Regions from separate parts of the Homo sapiens genome. Here regions 1 and 3 are each linked to region 2. The links come from fine-mapping of genetic effects on gene expression. A gene starts in region 2. Each other region holds a variant in brackets. All regions are shown on one strand. Distances are from middle to middle.

Region 1 (5,954 bases), 68 kb after region 2:
GGACCCTGTGGAATGGGAAAAGCATCACCACTTCTTTACTCTGACTCCTGGAACCTCAGGTTAGAATTGAGCCTTGTTTTGCATCTTGTTAATTTAGATTCTCCTTACTCAGTCATCCCACTTTTTTCAGAATCTATTTTATAAAAATAAAAGTACTGGTATACAAAGATATTTACAGAGACAATATTTGTAGTAACAACAACAACAAAAAGGGCTGGGCGTGGTGGCTCACGTCTGTAATCCCAGCACTTTGGGAGGCCAAGGCAGGCAGATCACTGGAGGTCAGGAGTTCAAGACCAGCCTGACCAATATGGTGAAACCCCATCTCTACTAAAAATACAAAAGTTAGCCAAGTGTGGTGGTGAGTACCTGTAGTCTCAGCTACTCAGGAGGCTGAGACAGAAGAATTGCTTGAACCCAGGAGGCAGAGGTTGCATTCAGCCAAGATTGTGCCACTGCACTCCAGCATCGGCAACAGTGAGACGTCGTCTCGAAGAAAGAAAGAAGAAAGAAAGAAAGAAAGAAAGAAAGAAAGAAAGGAAGAAAGGAAGAAAGGAAGAAAGGAAGAAAGAAAGAAAGAAAGAAAGGAAGGAAGGAGGAAGGAAGGAAGGAAGGCAGGCAGGCAGGAAGGAAGGAAGAAAAAGAAAGAAAGAAAAGAAAAGAGAAAGCAAGCCTAACTCTCCATCTATAAAGGAATGGTGGATGTGCAATTAACCCATGGTGTGTTCATACAATGGACTATTAGGCAGCTATTACACACAATGAGTTACACTATCTGTATTACCTGGAAGGATATTAATTATATACTAGTTGCAGAGAATAAAAGAAATTGCAGAATAATGTTGTTTGAAATGCTTGTTCCCCAGTGCTGTAAAGAAACAGCACTTGAACATTAAATTTAATTTGCTCGGCAAGGCCATTTTTATACTTTCTGCAGAAAGGGTACACTCGCCAGCAGTTTTGCCATGAGAGTACACTGAACAAAGGAGACAGGGTCATTTATAACCTGATGTGTCCACTCTACTGCTGTGTCTGGTTTCCATTGGCTGGAACAGGACCTCACATTCTGTATTTGTCCCGATTGGCTAGCAACTTACAACTTTTTAAAAGAGGCAAAGGTAGAGGAGAACAAAGGAAGGAGGAAGTAACTTGTGGAATGCTGAGAAAGGTAAAAACACCTTCAAATAAGGAAGAGGAACAGGCTATGACCTAATGCTGGCTTGGACTAGTATAAGCATGACAGGACAAATATTTAAGCTAAATTGTGGGAGCTAAGAACTAAAGAACGTTGATTTCTTTATCATGGCTAGCAGATATTTAAGAATGTTAGCACAGGTCTTTGAATAAATTTTGCTTCTAAAAGAAGTTACTATTTATTCCTAATTAAATGGGGAGGAAAGTCTTTGAAGAGGAACCTCTACTTTACTTTTTACAATGTGTATAATGTGATCCATTAAAAAACACACACACTTTACTTATTTGTGTACATTTGAATGAGTGTGGAGCAGGGTGGGAAAGGATGCACCCAAGATATCAATATTGGTCATCTTAGTGGATAGTAACACAGCAAGAACAAGGAGAGCATCTTTACTTTGTATGTCTACTTTAAAGTTGTTGTGCATATTACTGCATGCATTTTGGGGGATTAAAGAATAATATAATAAAGAAAAAGTAAAGGAAGAAAATGAAATTTGATAAAACTGTAAGAAGAAATTGCTCAGAAAGTGTTGGGTTCTAAAAATTATTCAAGGAAGAGATAATTCCAACATTATAAAAACTATTACAGAGTAGAAAAAATGGAAATCTTCTAACATAATTTTTGGAGGCTAGATTTACCATGGTACTAAAACTAGAAAGGAAAACTAGAGGCCAATTTCAATCGCAATTGACCGTCCCTTCAAAAAAAATCCAAAATAAAACATTAACAAACTGACTCAAGTTATTAAAAAGATAAGACAAGGTAGTCAAATTAAATTATCCAGTAATTGAAGGTAGCTTCACATTAGAAAATCTATTAATATAATACTAACCTTAACAGATTAAAGGAGAAACTATAAATGCTGAAAAATAATTGTATAAAATTCAACAATTCCTTTTTTTTTTTAAAGAAAAATAAAGGCTCTTTAGTAAGTTGGGAATATACAGACCCTTCCTTCAACTGATGTACCATGCTGGCTGTATTCCCTGGGCCCGTAAGTTCCAGTTTTCATTCATCTGCAGAGACCCTGGCAAAGGTTTCTACTCTCCTGGTGGGTCCTCTGGTTTCCTCCTGAAACTAACAGGAACCTCACCAAGAAGCTGGAGGAAAGAGGAGAGTGGGTCAGGGTATTTGTTTCTGGATCTCCTCCCTGCAAGGTCACCTGAGTAGTTGCTGGAGCTCTCAAGGCAGTGGACTCCACAGACTCTTCCTTCTGCGTTCTGGCACGTGTTCCCTCCTCAACCCTCTCCCTTAGAGGTGTTGGAAGTGCAGCTGCTCCTGAGCCCTGGATTGCTTCTCTATCCCTTGTGGTACCCTTTACCTGAACCTTTGTCAATACAGCAAATTCTTGTTATTGGAGGTAGATGTGTACTACAAAATCATTACAAACACTGAATTAACAAATACCAAATCATCACTCCTAGAGGAAATACAAGGTTAGGTACCTGTGAGCCTCTGGTCAAATATTTTCATTAACCAATTGATACATAACCTTGCTTTCTATGTGTTTCTTACACATATTTAATCTATATCATTGACT[C/T]ATTAACATTGAACTTACAGCCAACAGCACTATAACTCATGCCTGAATGAAGCTTCTCCAACACACCTATTTTCTCCTTAAGGCACATCATAGCCTTTGAGGACTAAACTCTGACTTTTTTTTTTTATCTTGCAGAAACTCCTATCTAAGGAGTCTGGGGAATCATGTCCTACAAACCACAAATTCTCATCAGATGGGTTTTATTTAACCTTGTATATCGTGATTTATTTTCCAATGTAACTCTGGAATAACAAGAAAGAAAATCAAAATGTTCTATTCCAAAACATGTTTCTCTGCCATATCTTAAACTTGCCCTGCAAAGTGTCTTGTGGGAAAATCTACATTCTATAGAGAATCCCCTTTGTTTTCCTTCCTTCCTTTCCAAATCCAGGAGATAATCAACCAAGAGTCAGGCACGCTTTTAAGTCCAATAAGAAACATTTTACAATCTGCTGTCTCTAAAGTCTGCTATCTGAGAGCTTCCTCTGCACAACAAAACTTGGTCTCCACAATCCTTTATCTTAACCTGAACATTTCTTTTCTATTGATCCCAGGTCTTCCAGTAAACTCAACAAATTGTCAACCAGAAAATGTTTAAATTTACCTATAGCCTGGAAGCCCCCACTTTGAGTTGTCCCACCTTTCTGAACCAAACCAATGTATTTCTTAAATGTTTTGATTCATGTCTCATGCCTCCCAAAAGTATATAAAACCAAGCTATACCCCAACCACCTTGGCACATGTTCTCAGGACCTCCTGAGAGCTGTGTCATGGGCCATGGTCACTCATATTTGGCTCAGAATAAATCTCTTAAAATATTTTACAGAGTTTGACTCTTTTCGTCAACAACTTCTTTCACTAAATAGACAGCACCTCAGCAATGTGTTTCGGGGCCATTTTAAACAGAAAAATCACAAGAAAAAGCACAGAAATTCAAAACATGTGGTACTAGATAAACCACGAAAAAATGCATGCTTACTTATGAGAGCTTAAACAACAAGGCAGATGTCGCCTTGTTTGACATCAGCTAGGAAGATGCACTTTGGTGACTCCATTTGTTTTTCACCATTCTGTGTATTAATGTTCATGAATTACTGAGAAAGTAAGGTGGTTATTGGTAATAGGGTTACAAATAAATTTTAACAAGTAGGTAAATTTGCAAATATAGAATCGTGAATAATGAGGATCTACTCTTTATAAACAAACTCTTCTCAGATTATGCTATTTCAAAATGTTATCAATTTCTTATTTGGAGTCTGATGTAATAGGTATATATGACAGAAACCTATTGCAAATACCATAATAAATGATGAAAAATTAGAAGCATTACTATTAATGGAACAAGGAAAGGCTGCTGCGTCATTCACTGTGCTGGACATCCTTGGCCAATGTGATAAGGAAAAAACAAAAACATGAATATTGACAAGAAAAACCAAAAATGTATTTGATTTAGAATGATATAATTATCTACCCATGAAGTCCAAGAAAATAAATTAAAACCCTATTTAACATATAAATGTGAATGTGAATGCATATAAAATCAACATATGAAAAGTAATAGCTTCTCAATTTGCTTACCAAAACCATTAGAAATTGAAAAAATAATTGCATTTACACCACCAATAAAACCTCTAAAATGGCCGGGCGCGGTGGCTCACGCCTGTAATCCCAGCACTTTGGGAGGCCGAGGCGGGTGGATCATGAGGTCAGGAAATCGAGACCATCCTGGCTAACAAGGTGAAACCCCGTCTCTACTAAAAATACAAAAAATTAGCTGGGCGCAGTGGCGGGCGCCTGTAGTCCCAGCTACTCGGGAGGCTGAGGCAGGAGAATGGCGTGAACCCGGGAAGCGGAGCTTGCAGTGAGCCGAGATTGCGCCACTGCAGTCCGCAGTCCGGCCTGGGCAACAGAGCGAGACTCCGTCTCAAAAAAAAAAAAAAAAAAAAAAAACCTCTAAAATTCCTAGGAATAATAAGCAAAATATAACACTCATAAGGATAAAAAAAACTTATTAAAGAAAAAACTGAATAAATGGAGAGTTATATCACGTTCCTAATTTGGATGACTCAATATTTTAAAAAGGTCAATTGTCCCCAAATTAATCTATAAATTCTTTGCAATACCACTCAAAACCTCCTCCCCATCTCAAATCTTACAACACATGTCAAATGGTTTTACATTTTTATTTGGAAGAGAACATGTACCAGACCAGCAAAGTCTATTTTGAAATAGGAGACTAAGGAGGCTATCAAAGTACACTATAAGTTATAATAATTTAAAAAGTGTGACATAAGGGGGGAAATAAAGAAATCAATGGAACATAATTTAGAGTCTAGAAACAGACCTATGTATATATAGAAATTTAGTAAATGACAAAGGTCGCACTTGGGACCAGTAAGTAAAAAATTCAATAAATGGTGTTGGAAAATAAATGGTGCAAGAAGGTATTTGCAACATATATAATATGAGACTAAGAATGAATATACAGAATATATAATCAATTCCTACAGATCAGTAAGAGAAAATGCAAAAGAAAAGTGGACAAAGATTCTGAAAAGACAATTTAGAGGAAAACATGCAAATGACCAGCAATGGAAGGAAAAGATCCTCAATTTCAAAGCAATCAGAGAAATGCAAATTAGAGCAGCAATGAGATATCACTTCCACCCATCAGTTTGGCAAAAACGGAAGAGACTGATCTTAGCAAGCATTAATGAGGAAGTGGGGAAACAGTATTTTCCTGCATTATAAGTGGCACAGCTCTTTTGAGGTACAACATGGCAGTAGAAATTAAAATGTTAAATATACATACCAGATGATCCAAAAATCCACTTCTAGTTATCTAATGTGGAGAAATACTTGCATATAAACTTGAAATATTGATTGTAGCAGTGAAAAAATTGGAAACCAACTTAAATGTCTATTAAGAGTGGTTAAATAATCTGTTATACTTTTATACTATGGCTCATTGTGGCAATTTTTAAAAAGCTTGATCAATATATATGAGCACTGAAATATATCTAAGACATATACTGTTAAATTTAAAAAGCATATTGTTGGGAAATACCATGTTATGTAATATACTATGCTAAATTTAAAAATCTACACAAAACTGTTTACTTCTATTTTTGCCTATGTTGGTATCTATGTAAACACATTTTAAAATATCTGTAAGAATACACCCCAGACTCCTGGGCAAGATGGCCAAATAGGAGC
Region 2 (5,809 bases):
AAGGGACATCCTCTCCCACCTCCAAATAAACCCCCAGGTTTCCTCGCGCTTGATTTTTGGTTGCCACGGTCAGAAATTTTTGGTTGCCGTGGTCAGAATTGCAGGCTGCTAACAAAAGGACTGATCTCAAGAGAGAAATGTAAATGCATGGACTTGGTGCCTTGATTCTTTCAAAGAACACTGTGGACTCCATGCTTCCTAACTTCACTACTGTGAGGCTGAGAGGGACAGGCTCTCCCAATATACAGATGGAGCCAGTATGTAAGGTTCACGAAGTCTAAATTACTTCAGAGAGAAGCAAAGCCAGAGAAGCCAGGAGCGGTGCTGTTCCCAGTATTGGTCCCAACTCCCCTCAAAGAAGCATCCTTCGTTTCAGGGCAGATAATCATCCCATTCTGCATTGAAGCTGTGAAGGCCTCTTCCCTCAGTCACACGGCTCTGATTCCAGTTATCCAGTGTGTTCACCAAATGCAATACCTGCCATTCCCCACTGTTCCTGACAATAACTAGAGGAAAAAAGCCCAATGAAAGCCACTGGGTGTGGCAGGAGGGGCAAACCACAGACCAGCCAGAATCTGGTCCAAAGCCCAGAAACATCTTTTCTGAAGCCCAAGTTCCTGGGATGACCAAATCTCGACCAGTGGGCCAGGTAAATGGCATCCCCTGGGTCTGCCAACACTGCACATCTGAACGAATGCCTTGGGAGAAAAAGGAACACGGCTAGCAAGCCACCAAATCATTTTCCCAGTTTGATGCCCATCCTTCTGGTAATTCCATTTGGAAATGTACTAAGCCTGGATTGACAGATCATGACCCACACTGAACCACAGGGGTGGTTATTTTCAAGGCTGCTTTGTAGATGGGTATGGGAGTGGGGGAGGAGGCAGATTATGGCAAAACAGAAAGGGAGGCCACTAAAGTTTATCACAAGGCAGATAATCTGCCACAAATGAAGCTACTACTCTGTTCCCTCACGGGAAGAGAGGTCTAAACCCTGGGGTGGATAGCAGGTTGGCCAGGGATCTGATGCCTCCCCACCCGAGGCCTGGGAAACCTGAGGGTAGGCAGATGTCCTGAAGATCCAGGAATACCCCAGGACCTTTGAACCCCATGTATGGAGGGTCTCCATCCCACAGGACAAGTCCACCACCAGGCGGCCCACTAGAAGGCGGCAGGGGAGCAAAGGGAGGCCATGGGCAGCAAGGAGACAGAGGCTGAAGAGACCCCCCAGATTTGGCGAGAGGAGCCAGTAAAGCTAGGTGAAGGGGAAGGAGGCCAGCAGCCTGGACGGGTGGCTGCAACACACAGGCAGGCACCTGAGAGGGGCCCCAAGAAGATACATCTTCCAGCCCTGACCCTGGGGATAAGAGTTCTAAAAAGGTCAGTTGTGACTTTCAAAAAGTCCCTCTTCCATCCAACACGTTCTTTGCTCAGCCTTCCCATCTCATTAATACAGCAACTCCGATGTGCTTGGAGTCATATTTGACCTTTCTCGTCCTTCCATGAATCCACCGGCCAATCCTATTGGATCTGCCTTTAAAATCTATCCAGGTCTGCAGGGGCCAACTATACAGAAAAACACCACATCCTATCGGAAGGTCTTGCTTGGAGTGAGGACCAAGAGGCAGGTGGAGTGATAGGCATCTCTGAAGATGCCTCTGGAAGAGATAACTCCGAGACTCAAGTATCTCCAAGGTTAGAGGGAAACAATATTTTTCTCCATAACAAGGATGCACTTATTCACATTTCAAATTTGTCCCTAGGATTAATAGCAATCCCTCCAAATACATGGTTGATAATGAGAAAGGATTAATTTAATTGGACATAATTCTGAGCCCTCCAACATAATTATCTATTTGTATGGACTTTGGTTAAAATAAACTACAGACCAGAATAATCAATCAACACGTATTTAATTCCATCAAAGAATGAGTTCTTCTACCAAATAGAAAATTGTAACTCCCTGAAGTCAACAGTCTTGTCTTTCAAGCCTTTCTTTTTTTTTTTCACCTAAAGCAAGTAATCATATGTACAGGAGCACGTGGCTCTAGGATCCAGACCCAGACAAGGGAGTACATTTCTGATCTACTTACTAAGCCCTTTCCTCTTTACTCAAAACTCCTTTGACATCCTTTGAATTTTACCTTTATAATAATTAAACATGATCGTAATATGCTAAACCTATTTTTAAAACCATTTTAATCTATTGTTGACCTTTCCCCTAAGTTTCTATTCTGTTCGTGTGACTTAAATAAGACCTTTTGTTTTAATAACAGGAGGGTGTGTTCATATAAAAATCATGGTAATTTCCACTGAGATCAACTAAAAATACCAGAGGAATAAATGTATCATGGTTTCCTATTATCTGAACCAAACATAAAGGGCAAGAAATGTTAGGAAAAATCCCAGATAAATTATAATTCGAATTAAATACAATTAGGGCATTCGGCCAGAGGCCGACATACACAATTCTACTAGTCGAATGTAAGTAAGATAAAAGGCACATTCTTTAGGGAGATACACCTGGGATTGAAATCTCAACCATCTGGTAACTATGTCTGGACTAAAACCCAACACATGAGGGCATGGCGGTGATGACGTGAGTATTGGGAAATGTAGGTTATTTATTTATTTTTTTCCTGAAGGCACATGTCTGACTATCCTAGTCACACAAGTCAAACACAACTGCTGTCTGGTTCCCCCATCCCCTGGAAAGGGTCAGGAGCTGAACCAGCAGGCTGTTGTAGTACTACAGTGCAGCTGCCGCTCTGTGTACGCGCAGGTTTTAGAATGACTCTGACCTGCCCATGCCTGGGAAGTTTTCTACTACGCAGAAAGGAACACCCTGAGAATACGGTGTCTTGCTAAAGGCGGAAGAACTTCCTCTCATTCCAAACCATGTGGAGGGCTTGAGGAACCCGGCCTTTCCAGGCCACACTGGGTCACAAGGAAGCCCACCTAGGGGAGACTTCCTCAAAGCAATCTTGGGGACCCAGACGAGAGGTGCAGGCGGCGCGTCCCGGGTTCTAGGGACAAGCGGAGAGCCAGGCGCCCTAGGTCAGGGCGGCCACCGGGCGGGGATGGCAGCAGAGTCCCTGGGCCGGCCACCTGCCGCGGGACCACCCTCCGGGCGGCCGGGCAGAGTCCCCACCCACGGCTGATGACACATCCCCGGACCTCGTGGCGGGGCGGGGTGCTCTGCACCGCGCCATGTAAGGGAAGGTCTCCTCGCCGCCGGCGGGCTCCGTGTGCCTCCCAGTCTGGCCCCCGTGCCCGCCGCCCGCCTACGCACCCCGACCACCCCGTGCGTAGCGGCGCGCGGGTCCCCGGACAGGCGCGCGGAGCGGGCATCGCCAGATCGCCCACGCTTACTCACTCGGTGTTGCATCATGCACCACGCCGCGGTTTCAGGGAGCCAAAATGGACTCCGTGGAGGCGACAGTCGCATGGGCACCAGCCCCGCTCGCCCACTCCGGGGCCCGCCCGGCCCTGGTCCTGGCCCTTCCCAGAGGATGGCAGCGTTCCCGGCGCGGGGGCCCTCGCCACTCCCGCGCCGCCCTGCCGCGGCCCCACGCGGCGCCAGGGCCCCCTCCGTGATGACCCGGGCCCAAGGAGCTGCCCCCTGCGTTGGCGGGGCCGGGCACTCACCAAGCCGGCGGCGGCGGGGCTCCGGCAGGATCGCGAACAGACAGACTGTCGGACGCGCTCAAGGACCAACGGACGCTCGGCCGGCGAGACCGGGCGGGGCGGGGCGGGGCGGGGGCGCGGCGCGCGGGGAGAGGAGTGGAGGCTGCGGTTAGCGGGAGCCCGCGGCCGCGTGCGCGCCTGCCAGGTAGTTGACCCGCTGCTCACACCTGCCTGCGCGGACTGAATGGGCGCCGAGGGCTGGCGGGTTCCGGCGCCAGGTTTCATCAGCAGTGCGCCCGGCCCCCGCCCCTCGCGCTCCGCGCCCCGCGCCCCACGCCCGCCCCCGGACCAGGCAGCCCCGGCCCGCTCGGCCGCGTCACCGCCGGGCACCAATGGGAGCGCGGCGCGGCGGCGGCTGCCAGCCCAGAGGCTGCGGCCGGGGACCGACGCGCCCTTGGTGGGCGGGGCGGCTGAGTCTTCGCGCGCCCAGCGCCCCAACCTGGGGTTCCCGCGGCGGGCGGGCGGGCTGCGCCTCCGCTCGCCTTCTCAGTAGCTCCGTAGGCGTGTGGCCGTTTCTCCGCCAATCTGAGCGCACCGCGCCACAGCATCCTGTGGTCCCCTGCAGATCCCACAGCGCCCTGGCCAGAACTAGTGCTGCAGGTCCGGCCGTGCCAACCCCCTCCCGGCGGGCCCCAGGGAGCTCACACGGAACTCGAGACCAGTTTTCCTTCTCCAAAATAAAAGATTTGGTATGCACTTAAAAGGTTTAAACTGTTTTCTTTTCATTTTAGAGACAGGGTGTTACTCTATTGCCCAGGCTGGAGCGCAGTTCACCTTAACCTCGAAATCCTGGCCTCAAGCGATCCTCCCGCCTGGGCCTCCCAAAGCGCCCTAGGATTACAGTCCTGAAACACTGCACCGGCCTAAAAATTATTATAAATCTTCATGTCTTTGTTATTGGATTATTTTATTACTATTCCTTTGCCCTTGCTAATACCTTATCCTTGCCAGTTGTCAGAAGAGCCCCAAAGCTTGAATCTACCTGTGCCCCCTTGGCAGTGGCAAATGCACAAACGGCTAGTCAGAACGGCTCACTTTTGCAGTTACCCCCCAGGAAGTGGCAGAAGCTTCAGTCCTGAATCACACCGTGCTCACCTTTTAAGCTCCCTCCTTGTCTCCTTTTGTACCAAAAGCCAAGCGAGAATCATAATCTTTAAAGATCCAGTGATCTGGGACTTGGGATAGGTAAACAGGGCATAAATTAATAATGCCATCCTTCTTCTATCTTATAGGAAAACAGAAAAACAGTGGACGGTGTCCGTGGTCTTTGAATCCTTTCTACAGGTCCTTCTCAAATATCAGCTGCTGAACTATTCCCTTGGAATTAGACTAGCAATTTATAAAGTACATAACTGCATGGTGCTAGCTTCAGAAAAAGTGTTCTGTTGTTGTTGCTGTTGTCATTTGTTTGTTTTTTAGAGACAGGGGTCTCACTCTGTCACCCAGGCTGGAATGCAGCGGTACAATCATAGCTCACTGGAACTTCAAATTCCCAGGCTCAAGCCATCCTCCTGCCTCAGCCTCCCAAGCAGATGGAACTACAGGCTTGTGTCATCACGCCTAGTTAATATTTTTTCTACATATAGACACGGGTTTTTGATATGTTGCATAGGCTGGCCTCAAATACCAGCTGTCTAGCGATCATTTTGCCTCAACCTCCCCTAGCATCGGGACTACAGGGATGAGCCAGAAAAAGTCCCCAGAAAAAGTTTTAATGAACACATGCAGATGGCTTAGCAGTTGTAAAATGTGTTTTTGTCTTTGTTTTAGAGAGTGGGTCTCACTCTGTCACCAAGTTGGAGTGCAGTGGCAACATCATAGCTCACTGCAGCCTTGAACTCCTAGGCTCAAGCGATCGCCTCACTTTAGCTTCCCCAGTAGCTGGAAATATAGGCGAGCACCATCCTGCCCAGCTTTGTAATGTGCTTTGAACAGTGCTTGACATCATAGTAAGCCACCATATATGCTTTGTTTTAAAGCAACAAATCTGGCCTGTCACGGTGGCTCACGCCTGTAATCCAGCACTTTGGGAGGGCAAGGCAGGCAGATCATGAGGTCAGCAGATTGACACCATCCTGGCCAACATGGTGAAACCCCGTCTCTACTGAAAATACAAAAATGA
Region 3 (5,954 bases), 23 kb before region 2:
TAGACCACTTGCTTGATAAGCCCTGATCAAGTCCGTCCCTTTATTTTACCACAGGGCAACTCAAGTCCTAATACACCAAGTGACTCAGACGCGCCTGAACACAGGTCTCCAGGCTTCTAAGCAAGCGAAGGAAGATTACCCAACAAGCCACCAGCTTAAATTCATCAAAACGGGTCTCTGTCCAGTCACTTTGATTCCATTTTAAGAACGGACTCCTATCTAAAGCAAAGAAAAATGTGGGCTGCACAACTCATCTGACTTGTTTTTGTCCTCAGCTCAGCCGAGGGCACCTGGCTCTCTGCCCCATGTCTGAAATCGCATCCTGTTTGCCCCCAGAGCCACTCCCTGCCTTCCCCACTACGAGGCCCACCTGTATGCATCCCGAGCTCTCTGGGCACTGGCAGGGAGGAGTGAGGCGAAGGAGGACCCTCTCTGCGGGCTGTCTCATTGGAGATCGGCCCTTCACCAAGCCAGGTGCAGCCTCAAAACCATCCCTTCCCCTCAGGTTGAGGGTGTTAGAAGTGGTTAGGGCCCCCTCACTACTCCAGGCTGTGAACCCCCTGCCCTGCCTTTGTAAAAAGTCACTTTATTTAAACTCACCTCAAACTGCCCATCCTGAGAATGCACTCTGCTCCCTGCAGGGCCCCTGATGGCAACAGCCTTAGGGGCAGTGAGCTCTGGATGTCTGCAGCTACCAGGCCCACTGCAAGTGTGAGGGCTTGACCTCATGAGGCGGGGGCTGCAATAATCACATGATAGCCCTCCTCCTTCTAAATCGAGCTCCTAAGGACACCAGATTAATCACCACTAGCCCATTCTCAAGAGTACCCACAGTGAGTCTAGTGATAGGTTACAACAACACATTGCACTATCAAGACAGATTTTTAAAAAATTCTTCAATGTAATGCAATAACATCTGAGCAGCTGGTATGCAGCAGACACTGTGCTAGGTCTTTCACATACCTAGAAAAGCAACCATCAGTCCTCATTTCATAAATGAGAACACTGAACCTCAAAGAGTTTCAGCGGTGCTTATCAGAGCTCTAGGAGGCTGAGGCAGGAGTCGCCCCAAAGGCCCGCAGATCCACCTCCATGGCTGGCCAGGCTCCAACCAGCAAACAAAGCACACGGCTGCTGGCTAGCCTGGCCACAGACGTCCTGGTCACATTACACAAATTAAAAGAAAAACAGAACCAGAAACAAAAGTTTTCTAACATCATACAGAACTCCCTGAATGCCACATTCACATAATCACATTACCTGGGTGGGCCAGCAGGTGAAATTACCTAGCAGCTCCCCACCTGCCTGTGAATCCTGGGGAAGCTCATTCACATGTTCCTCTGGCATTAAACGAATGGCTGCTCTGCTATGTGCAGTGGTCCCTCTGCTGAACCTCCTCTGCCCCGAACTCAGCATGGAGGAGGAGGCCACGGCCTGCCACGTGCCTGGGTACAAAGGCCTAGCAGTTTGCATCAAGCAACGTTATTGACTTGCCATTGAATAGAAAAATTCTTTCCATGTCCCATTTCATATTTGCTCACGGAACTGATGAGGAATCAGAAGCCCTGCCCTCGCTGTGTGAACTTGAACAAGTTACGCTATGTTGCTGTTTCAGTTCTACCATCTGAAGCGGGGATAATGACAGTGTCACCCACACCCGCCCCCCTACCTCCATCTTGTTCCTCCTGTGAGGCTCAAGAGACAGTGAGACAGATAGAAGTTAAACTCTCAGGTTAAACTGGATTCAAAACATGATGGGACCGGGCACGGTGGCTCACGTCTATAATCCCAGCACTTTGGGAGGCCAAGTCAGGCGGATGGATGGCTTGAGCCCCGGAGTTGGAGACCAGCCTGGGCAACATAGCAAAACCAAGTCTCTACAAAATACAGGAAAAAAAAATTAGCGAGAGATGGTGGCTTGTGCTTATAGTCCCAGCAACCAAGGAGGCTGAGACGGGAGGATCACTTGAGCCTAGGGAGGTAGAGGTGGCAGTGAGCCATGATCATGCCACTGCACTTGGGTCTGGGCAACAAAGAGAGACTTTGTCTCAAAAAAAAAAAAAAAAGATGGGCAAGTTATTTAATTTCTTTGAGTCTCCCTTTTCTCCTTTGCAAGATGAGGAGGTTTCAATGAATTTATATATGTAAAGCACTGCAGAGCACCTGGTGCATAGTATGCGCTATATGTTAACTATATTACTATTATTAGTTTCTTAATGTATAAGACATCTCATTAGTAGCCAACTTATAAAGTGCTGTGAAGATTAAGTACCCAAAATGATAACTGTTTTTGCCATACCATATGAAGGTATTAGGTTGGTGCAAAAATAATTGCAGTTTTTGCCATTAAAATAGCAAAAATTGTATTTTGTAATCACCAAAGTACTATACAAATATACAGTTTAAAAAATAAAATAAGGTTATTGTTTGATGTATTTCCATCTGCCCTGATTCAGATGGTGGAAGACTTGAGGGCTGTTGCCCAGAAATATTAAAATTGACTTAAAACTATTACAAACATAAACAAAATGGGAAAATTATAAAAACATAACATAATGACATTTTATGGCCGATTTTAATTTTAAAACATTTAAACATGTAAAGGTCCCAGGCTCTATAGCATCAACCACCAAAGCCCTTGGCGGTGCCTGAATGCAGGGTGGTGAAGAGCTGGCCATGGCTGTGGCCTTTCTAGATCGCAATGAAGTGACCATCAGACATCTGCCGGGGGGTCCTCACTCATGGATAGTCCCGCTCACCCAGAGGCCTTTCCATCTCAGTTTGGCTTTTGGGCCAAATTTGGAAGCATTACACTTCATTAAGGAAATGAAAGGCTTTTGCTTTACCTATTCCACCAGAGGGGCGGCTTCTCCAATTTCTTCCACTCTGAACTCAGGCGGAAAAGGATTGCCCAGTCCAGAGCCGCTTTCCTCCTTCCAGGAGGTCTGGACACTCACAAAGCCCAGTTATTTGTTTTGCAAACTGTGTATACATTGAATGGAAATGTTTGTTTTCCATATCCCGCTTTACGTCTCTAAAGACAAATGATTAAAGAATCATTTCAAGGGCATTTTTTGTTTTGCTCATCCCCTCCAACCTGCTTGTATTAAGCAGCCTCACTTCCTGCCTTTTAACTTACATTTCTGTCCACCTATCATCCACTCTTCTTTGTTGACCTTTGCGTGTACAGTGTTGCTTCAAAAACCTTCAAAGGAAAGGTCAAAGTGAAATGTCACAAGGGAAGCAGGCCTGATGG[C/T]CAGTGGCCAAGGAGGCACCAATGCCCAGGTCTGAGGCTGCCTGTGGCATGCATGACACTGCCCCAAAACGCAGGTGGTGAGGGTGCAGCGGCCGCCTGTGGGTCCCAAGCACGACTCCAAGTGCGACACGCTGTCTAGGCCATCTGGTCCCACACCAAGTCACATCTGTGCCCAGAGAAGCCCAGTGGACCAGTGCGGGCCCCCCAGCCCTCAGGGCAGAGCCAGGACGCTTCACACAAGAGTCACTCATTGGATTTTCTACTCCACGCACACGCTGTCAATAATGGCAGGCGCCACCTAAAGGGGCAGGTGCCAGTGTAATTTAACAGGGGAGAAAAAGTACAGAGGCCACCCAGGAGGATGCTGGAAAGACAGAGGGTGGGGAGTGGGAAGAAACACTCAGGACCCGCGGCACCAGGGCGTGGGACTAGAACGAAAAGCAAGAAGACCATGTGAGGGGCAGGGGAGGAAGGACTGGCCGGATGCCATCAGTTATCATCAATATGAAGGGAATGAGCCCAAGGTAACTCTGAAATCCTAAACTTGGATTTGGAAGCACTGAATCTGAGCTGAGGGTGGCCCTCAGTAAGGCACTGTGGCCCTACCGCTCTGGTTCCCCCAGTCGTTCTCTGCCCTAGTTTGTAATCTACAAAGTGATCAGAAGCTCATAAAACATGGGCACGAGCACTACAGTTGACCAGCACTGGGCGGGGAAGGTGATCCTGGGAAACCTGCATGGGACTGTGCACACCAACCACACCAACCAGAAGCAGCCAACACACACAACCGCAAGGGCCAACTCAACATGGTAATCAACATCTAAAGCTGCACAATTTGATGGAGGAAAACTCCACTTGGAAGGGATAAGTGGTCCAGGAGAAACAGAGACAGAAGCTCAAAGCTGTCAGATCTGCCACAGACAAGTGGCTGGTAAATACAAGAAACCTTTCTTGAAAATGCAGATAGCAAATAATCTATCCTGGAGAGAATAATGTCACGAAACATGAAAAATGTAAATGGTTTATTTGTGCTCTAAAAACACAATGATTTAAACTGAAGGTCACTCAGGACAATATTGTCATCAAAAAATTCTTTGGTGATGACATATATCTGATAAAATATTTATATTCCTAAATGACAGTCAAAATATCCTCGGATCAAAAAGCAGTCTTGCCACATGTCCTGTGTCCAACAGAACAGATAGAACTATCTGGCAAGCAGGTGGGGCTGTGAGAATCTGAAACGAGGAACTTGGATGTGGAGCACACCCAGAGGCACGTGTTGCCGGGAGTGAGATCCCTGGGAGAAAAGAAGGCAGCTGTTACCAGAATCGCGGGGAACACCACACTCTGGCAGCTGAAGGAGGAAGTAGCACACAGATGATGGGGAGGTGCAATTCTAGAGTCCAAAGGCAGACGGACTTCTCTAAAGCCAGAGAGTGTCTGACTCTGTGTGTCTGCCTTAAGGCCCACATCGTCCCCTTTCAAAGTGCACCAGGAGCCACAAAAGACAATGTGACTGGATGGTAACTTAGCAAAGAGCTGTCAGATCAAATACAGGACTGCCCAGTTAAATCTAAATTTCATGTGAATGACCAATAATTGGTTAATGTAAGTATGCCCCAAATATATCACAATGATGTCCCAAATATTGCCAACAAATAATCTTTTAGTATAAAAAAGTTATACTAAAAAAAGTATCCATTGCTTATTTATAATTCAAATTTAACTGGGCATCCAGTATTTTTATTGCTAAACCTGGTAACCCTGGTTTGGTACTGACAGCTCAGGCCTCAGGCCTGAACACCTCCCCTTTGCCCAGCACCTTTCTAGCCGCAGACCATGAACCCTGACTTCCACAGGCATTTCTGCGTACCCAGCTACTAACAAGCAATGACTCCATTCTTTGACAAGCTCTCTCACATGCTGAAAACAAAGAAAGCCTCCTTCAACAGACCCAGAAAATTAGAGAATCTGTAGAAAGGAATGGCCAATCGTATTAAATGTTTCAGAGACACCACAGGGGGTGAGGACTGAGACAAAATCAGGATATTGTCTAATTCAAGAGAGAGGAAATTGAAATTGTGAGCAGTTTTAGTAGAATAGTAGGAGCTTAGTTTACAAAGGGATGAAGATAGATGGTAAGAGTGTGACATTCTCTTTCATTCACTTAATCATTAAAAAACAGGGTTCTTGACCAACTGCCTGTGTTATCACTCTAGCTGTGGGAGATGCCTTGCAACTTCCAGAAAGGCCTACAGAGCTCCCCATTCAGAGCTGAAAGTACATTTTTTATTAATTTTCACCAAATATCACTGACGCTTAATGTTGCCTAGTGCTCACGTGAACAAGAACACGAACTCATCTGTGGGAGTTATGGCCCATAAGGGCAAGAACCTGGGAAAGTCAGTGCCAGCACCTGTAGGAGCTCACCCAATACCTGTGGAACACATGAATACATGAATGGAGGCTGTCTTCTCAAAGAGCCTGTTTTGAAATTTGAAATCTTACATAAAAATGGAAAGCCAAGGTCTAGGGTAAACCTTAACATTTCGTAGCACTCACTGGAGCAGCTAATGCTTTTTTTTTTTTTTTTTTTTGAGACGGAGTCTTGCTCTGTCACCAGGCTTGAGTGCAGTGGTGCGATCTCGGCTCACTGCAAGCTCCGCCTCCTGGGTTCACGCCATTCCCCTGCCTC

The links. PIP is the estimated chance that this variant, and not a neighbour inherited with it, causes the effect. A credible set is the group of variants that fine-mapping cannot tell apart.
Region 1: its variant is the best candidate, but not a certain one, in a credible set for the expression of SLC7A1 in whole blood (INTERVAL, PIP 0.80).
Region 3: its variant is the best candidate, but not a certain one, in a credible set for the expression of SLC7A1 in adrenal gland (GTEx, PIP 0.62).

The regions. Positions count from the first base shown.
Region 1 is chr13:29,659,358-29,665,311 of GRCh38, forward strand. No RefSeq gene overlaps it. Among named protein-coding and RNA genes, the nearest start is that of SLC7A1, 67 kb to the left of the region's middle. The variant C/T (reference allele first, on the strand shown) is at 2,739.
Region 2 is chr13:29,591,768-29,597,576 of GRCh38, forward strand. It overlaps SLC7A1 (solute carrier family 7 member 1), which reads right to left and starts at 3,921. Exons shown (of 13, transcript NM_003045.5): 1 at 3,649-3,921. RefSeq lists enhancers at 717-1,218, 1,219-1,718, 2,808-2,937 and silencers at 2,585-2,879, 3,048-4,287.
Region 3 is chr13:29,568,808-29,574,761 of GRCh38, forward strand. The region is part of intron 1 of SLC7A1 (solute carrier family 7 member 1); the gene reads right to left. Among named protein-coding and RNA genes, the nearest start is that of SLC7A1, 24 kb to the right of the region's middle. RefSeq lists an enhancer at 4,545-4,664. The variant C/T (reference allele first, on the strand shown) is at 3,257.